Linked DNA regions of Homo sapiens: region 2 is reported to be linked to region 1. Evidence: microRNA targets listed by miRTarBase, many of them from high-throughput screens and not tested one by one. Region 1 holds a microRNA gene; the other region holds the end of a gene's coding sequence.
What was found. The annotated mature microRNA hsa-miR-3934-5p reads UCAGGUGUGGAAACUGAGGCAG and lies in region 1 at 1,504-1,525, shown strand. An mRNA with a match to its seed (bases 2 to 7 or 8) in the 3' UTR can be bound and repressed. Matches are read on the target gene's strand: a 7mer-m8 pairs with bases 2 to 8, a 7mer-A1 pairs with bases 2 to 7 and ends in A, and an 8mer does both.

Region 1 (3,000 bases):
CCCCTCCCTGCTGGCCTGGCCTCTCAGGCTCTCAGGAGATACGCTGAGTGACATCCTGTCTCAAGGGTCCTCCCCTGAGATTTGCCTACCCAGAACTGCATTTCGGCATAACTGGTTTCTACGGCAGTCCTGTCGATTTTATTTTATGCATTTCAGAACATCCTGAGGAGTCTAGACACAGACGAGGTTAAGAACCCACTTCCACTTTGTACCCACCAGGGCCGCTGTGGGCCCAGCCCTGTCCCTCACGGTTCCAGAGAGAAGGATGCTCAATATCAGTAAGAGCCAAGGTTCCATGGAATAATGAGGTGACCCTGTGTGTGTCCTCAGCCAGCAGGGCCTCTGACTTGTGGCCACCTACAGAACCTGCCCACAGTGCTGAAGCCAACTGCAGCTGAGGCCCCGCTTGGCCAAGGCCTGTCTATAGCTTCCCTGTCCCTTAAGCCAACTGGGCAATGTGGGTTTTTGCAAGGTCAGGGATAGAGGCCTAAGGTCCATCCTTCTCTGAGTCAGTGGGGATGAGGGCCAAGCAGGCTTTTTGCCTCTCTCGGCCTCACACCTCCCTACTGCTTTCTGTTTGCAACAGGATGCCCTTTTCAGTATTTACTGCTATTTTTGGCTTCCTCCCAGGAGCTCCTACAACAAAAGGGAGCCTGAGTATCTTGCCAGGAGACACCAGACCCGTGCCAGAGGGGCGGGGGCTCCCGTGGCAATGCAGGAAGCACCTTGTGCCGAGGCCCCATTACCCTCATCAGGCCCAGAGGGAAACCTGCATTTCCTCTCCCCAGGAGATTTCCCTACCCTGAGCAGCAGTCACAGCAGATAGCTCAATCACCATCCCTTCTCAGGCTGAAACTTTCTTTAGAGCAGCAAGGGCTTCCTTTCTGGGAAAGCTAGAGGAGATTCCCAAACCGTAAGGTCAAGGGGAAACTGGGGCAGTTTTATTGACGATGGCAATGTACAAGACTCCACACCTAGGTATGTGCACGAGGTAAGGCCTGAGCTCAGGCCTTATGATCCTCCTCAGGACCCTTGGGGGCAAACTTCTCCTGCAGTTTCTTCCACATGCCTTTATCTATTTCCTTAAGCTCTTCCAAGGTGTCTGCAAAAGGGGAAGACAAAAAGAGAGAGGGACTGAAGTCTAAAACTTGATGACATAGATTGGACCCACTGGGCTTTCCCGACACAAGCATGGCTTGCTTTTCACACAGTGTGTTCCTGAAAAAGGTGGAGACCCAGCTCCTGAAGAGCAGATCAAACAGGTAACAGAAGTGACCGCTTGCGGGGACTGAGCACTGTGTGCCAGACTCTGTGCCCAGCACGCTGTCAGTGGTCTCCTGCCCTCTCCTCACCCTCGGCATCAAAGCGGGATGTGCTGCTCGTTGCCCTGCTCCGTATGAGGGCAAAGAAATGGCCCTGCGCTGTCCGCTGTGCAACCCACAGACCCAGATGCTTCATCGCAAAATTTGGCCTGCTCCACACAGCCCTTCCTGTCCCCAGTTTTCAGGTGTGGAAACTGAGGCAGGAGGCAGTGAAGTAACTTGCTCAGGTTGCACAGCTGGGAAGTGGAGCAGGGATTTGAATCCTGGTGTGTGGACTCAGCACATGCTGTGGAGTTGAGCAGGCACTGGGAGGGGGATGGCCTTGGGCCTGAATCCGAGCCCATCATCTCCCACTCTGGGTCCCCTCAAGCAAATTACTTAACCCTCTACGCTTCGGGTTCCTCATCTGTAAAATGAAGATAAAAACACACATCTGCAGACAACTTGGGGAGAGGTGAAAAAGTAAGAAAAAAAAAACCACACGTACCTCAAAAGTTGTAAGGATTAAAGAAAAGCATGGAGGTAACTCGCTTGGCACACAGCCCGCACTCAATGAAAAGGCAGCCATCATCCACCACAATGCAGGCGGGAGGGGCTCTTGTTTAAGAACATACACGTCCCTACACCCAGGAACCAAAGCAGGGTTTCTTGGCCTTGGCACTACCAACACTTTGGGCCAGATAATTTTTCGTCGTGGGCTGGCCTGTGCATCACTGAAGGCTGTTTCAAAGCATCCTGGCCTCTACCCACTAATGCCAGTAGCACCGCTGCCCGCACCACCAGTTGTGACAACTAAAAATGTCTCCAGACATTGCCACATGTCCCCTGGGGGGCAAAACCATCCCCCCAGTACGGAACCATTTGTCTAAAGTCTCTAGGGCTAATGTTCCATGAAATCTAATTTTACGTGCATGTTAAATTTTAGATATTCTTATAATATTGTTTTGCTTTACCAGCCTAAATTTTCACGTTAACAAAACTACTGGAGAAAAAAAGAGTATCTTTTCTGACCAAAAAAGGTAACAGAAAAAAGCCCCTGCTCTGGAGCTTTTCCAGAAGTCCATGTTTCCAGTGTCCAGGTGGACACTGAGGCCTCCCTTAGGCGCTTTCCATGACCCCAATCCCAGGGTGGACACACACATAACCCAGAACACAGCACATTTCAGACTTGCCAGGCCCTCAAAGCCTCTCACTACAAGGTGCTGCAGGTCTTTTCTTGTCCTGTCAGAGGAAACATTTGGTAAGCTTACGCCACACAATTTGCAACAAAAATATGAGGCTTGCTGTGAAAACAAATTCTCAGCAAATTTCCTGAACTAAACTCGCTGCCAGAACAAGCTGCAGCGCGGACCAATGGCGGGACTATCTCCCAGCCTTCGTTGCTGCCTGTTTTCCACTTGCAGAGGCTGCCCTGAGGTGAACAAAACAGAGGGCAGAGGCAGGGCCTCTGGAACTTACTTCCGCCCTCACTTCAAGTTCAAACTTTGCTCAAACTGTCCAGGGCCCTCACAATAATGTGCATCAATGCTGCTAATTACACGGACCCAGGGATATAGGAGTAAATTTACACATTAAAAAAAATTGCCAATAAAGTGATTCTGCCTGGCCAAAATATCTTCACCACAGTTTCCCAGAGAGTACTGGAATAAAAATAGGGTTAGAGTTGACATGTAATAGC
Region 2 (3,516 bases), not on the chromosome of region 1:
TCACAGCAGTCCCTTCCCACATGCTAGAGGGAAGGGGAAGCATGATAGGGAGGTCCACTTTTGTGGACTCAAACCTTGATGGGGATGTTGAGCAGTCACAACGCTTCTCAGAAAAGGCACAAGCACCCCAGACATTCAGGCCCGGAGAACAGGCTGGCTCAGCAGGTCTTCACGATCGGGTGTCTCGAGCCCTTCTTCGGGAACGAGGGCCACAGCTGGAGCTGGGCATGGAACCCAGGCCAGGGGGTGCTCCTGGGGGTTGGTAACCACACTCATTGGGGTCCAGGGGGTCCCGGCTGAGCAGCACCCACACTGCAGGCACATGGCGGCGCACTGTGAGGGGGTCTAGCCCTGTGTCAGGTGAGGCTGGGACCCAGCTGTCCTCAGTCTGAAGGAAACGTAGCTTGGTGAGCTGGTGCAGGCCTGGGACCCGCCGCTTGACAATCTCAGCGCAGCTGACAGCCTTTCCTGCAGCCCTGCCAGAACCTGAGAACACTACATGCCGAGCACTGCCGCCCTCCAACCGACCCAGAGCCAACCCCAGCAGGTTGCGAATTTTGCTGCCATCTCGGACCCGCATCTCAAGGGTATCAGGAGGTAGCTGGGGCATTGGGGAAGGCGCTGGGAGCTCTACAGAGCCAGCTTTCCGGTAGTGCTCCATCCTGCTTGCTGTCTTGTCTGTGACTCTCGCTGCCCACTGCAGGGAAGCATCAGGTAAGTGCTAAGCAATGTGCCCCAAGTCACTGTCCACCATCCCCTATCTCCATCCAGGATATGGCCCTGCTCCCCGTTCCAGACTTCCCAGAAACAGGATCATGTCCCCTTGTCCTTAGCATCTCGTGACAAGGTCCATGCCTGCCGCAGTCTGGGAAAGGGCTGTACCCCATACACCCCGTTCCTCTACAAGGGCCATAACACCCCCACCTCCAATCCTGGAGTCCAAGAGGCAGGATCACATTCCCCAAACACTGAGCTCTTTGGGAAAGTGCCAGGCCCCCTCATCCTAAACTCTCCAGGACTGGGGCTTAGCCCCCCTTATCCTGGGCTCCTTGGAACAGGGCCTGGAACCCTCACCCCAGACTAATACCAATAGAGAGCGCTCCTCACTTGGGGCTCTACAAGGACAGGGACAAGGCCCTTCGCCCCAGGCCCCCCGGGAAACAGCCAAGAACCCTTATCCAGTGCTGCCCCCAAACAGAACGGATCCCCTCTCCCAGAGATTACCAAGGTCAATCTATATCAACCCAGGTCACTCAGAAACTCGGGGGCAGAGGCTCGACTCGGAGGGCTGCTCAGGACATTCCAAGACAGCCTTGGCCGTTTCCATAGCCACGGTCTCTTCCAGGGTCTTGCCGGCCGCTGCAGCCAAGCCACAGGCGTCCCCCAACCCTACGAGCGCCCCTCTGCCCGCCCGGTTCCGGCTCTCACCGAAGCCGCCTCACGCACGATCCGGAGCCAAGATGGCGCGCGGGCCCGGAGCGCACTAAGGCCGCGGGGCCGCGCACGCCCCGAGGGGGCGGGGCGTGAGGGGCGGGGCGTGAGGGACGGGCCCCGAGGCATCTCCGCCGCGGAAACAACCCGCTGGCCAGAGCGCCCCGGACCAGTCCCAGCGGGGATGGGAACACGAGCGCAGCCTCCGCTGTTACGCCCCGGAGGGAGGCAGGACAGTTCCCTGCGGTAGAAAGGAGCGGCCGTCGGGGAAGTCCTGCGTCTGAAGGAGGGGGATCTGGCCCTTAGAAGATGGGAGGGCTGGCGTTAGCTGTTGAGCAAACGGGGAGCTGTGGGTTTCACCGTGGGTGCGAACAAAGGCTTCAGTTTGTAGTGGCTGCTGTTGCATGGGCGAGAGCCTTAGTTACCGACTTCTGAGCTTCGACCTCATCCTGTGGGCGCTGGCGGACCACGGGGGTTTTCCGGGTTTTCCAGGGGCCAGTCGAACCAGATCTTGTGCAGGGAGCCGAGGAGGGAGTGGTGGGGAAATCGGGCCACAGCCCCTGACGACACCTGCCGCGGAGTCTGGGGGCTGAGGGGGCGGGGGTGCCCACGGAGCCTAGTATGGTGCCTGGCGTATGACCGGCGCTCAATATTTGTTAAATGATTTGTTACATTAATGAACCAGAGAAATCGCGGTGGGAATGGAAAAAAGATTAAGTTGGGAGATACTAGTAGGTTCAGTGACGAGTTGGCCACTGTTTGGACGGAGAAGTAGGAAATTCCGATCTAGGGTGACTCCCAGGTTTCAGATCGGTTTGGACACGCTGAATTTGAGGTGCCGGAGAGGTCGCAAAGGCGGGGCGGCCAATGGGCCGTTGGAAAAAGGGTCTGGAGCCAGAGCACTCCCTGAGACCACAAGGGGGCAGCAAACATTTGGTGGACTACGGTGCCAATCTGTTTCTCAACATGCTTGCCCCAGCGCCCCTACTTCCCAACTTCCCCTCCCCAGGACCAAAACTTCCTGCATCCAAACCTCTTAGGCTGCCCTTCTCGGCTCGTGGCAGCAGGTAGGCTCCCAAGAGAGAAATTTAAAGGCCTTTGCACATGCTGCTCCCTTGGCTCTGAAAGTCCCTGGATATCACTTACCAGGTCCCTTCAGTCCCTTTTTTCTTCTGTGTCCACCTGATAGGACTGCCCTTTTCCTTTACTGTCTATCCTGCTAGCCCGTGCAGGGCAGGGATTAGCCCTATCTACTCCCATCATCTGACATTTGGAGGTCTCTTATTGGTAAATGTGGGATAAATGGATACATAAAGGAATATCCTATTCACATAATCAAATGAGAGCCTTCATTTTGAGAGCTCTACACCTGCCAGAAAGCCAGACCAGGATGAGTTTAGTTCCCAGTCAAACGATTAGGCAGGCTGACACCTCTGCCCCCTACCACCTCCATCCTAGACCAAGAAGCCAGCACACTCCTCCAGTCATCTCTATGGTTTATTGTCACTGAAATAAGAACACTGATTGGGGGGAGGGTGGGTGTTGCAAATTGCAAACCTCAGGTAACCTGACCTCCAACTTTAGAGCCCAGAGTACAGAGAGGTGGGCCTTGAAGCCAATAAATACAAAGCTTCCTCTGCCTTGTAACAAAGGCAGGTTGGCATAGGGCCCTGGAGCCTGACTGCCCAGGCCCACTTTGGGATGGGGAGCAGCTATCACTCCTCTGCTGGCTTCACTTGCGTGGCGGCCTCTAGCTGGCAAAGTAGCTCATCCCACTGCACGAATTGCTTGGAGAGAAGCATTGTCTGGTTGTAGGTCAAGGTGAGAATAGGAATCTGAGTGAGGAAGTTCATGGAAAGTGGGGAACAGGCAAACATAGGTGGGTAGGATAGGATGAGAGAGAGCTAGAGGTGGAACAAAAGGACAGGGCTTAGGGACAGCACCCATTAGGGTCCTAGTTGAGCAGAAAGGATACAGTCTTGTTGTATTCCTCCAGGAGAGCCTTGGACTCCTCAGTGATTTCCACACACTGGTCCTGTAGGGCCAAAGTGTAGCACAGAAAGGAACTGGGCAAAGCCCACATCT

Region 2: the mRNA of DCTN3 is a reported target of hsa-miR-3934-5p. The part of its 3' UTR that is shown has no 7-base or 8-base seed match.

What each region holds. Positions count from the first base shown.
Region 1 is chr6:33,696,649-33,699,648 of GRCh38, forward strand. It overlaps MIR3934 (microRNA 3934), which reads left to right and starts at 1,480; the gene lies at 1,480-1,586. It overlaps UQCC2 (ubiquinol-cytochrome c reductase complex assembly factor 2), which reads right to left. Exons shown (of 4, transcript NM_032340.4): 4 at 116-1,102. The coding sequence ends at 1,005. RefSeq lists an enhancer at 908-1,883.
Region 2 is chr9:34,610,636-34,614,151 of GRCh38, forward strand. It overlaps DCTN3 (dynactin subunit 3), which reads right to left. Exons shown (of 7, transcript NM_007234.5): 6 at 3,407-3,466; 7 at 2,911-3,236. The coding sequence ends at 3,147. It overlaps RPP25L (ribonuclease P/MRP subunit p25 like), which reads right to left and starts at 1,462. Exons shown (of 2, transcript NM_148178.3): 1 at 1,429-1,462; 2 at 1-697. The coding sequence starts at 661. The coding sequence ends at 170. RefSeq lists enhancers at 380-933, 2,037-2,086, 2,214-2,263 and a silencer at 1,397-1,636.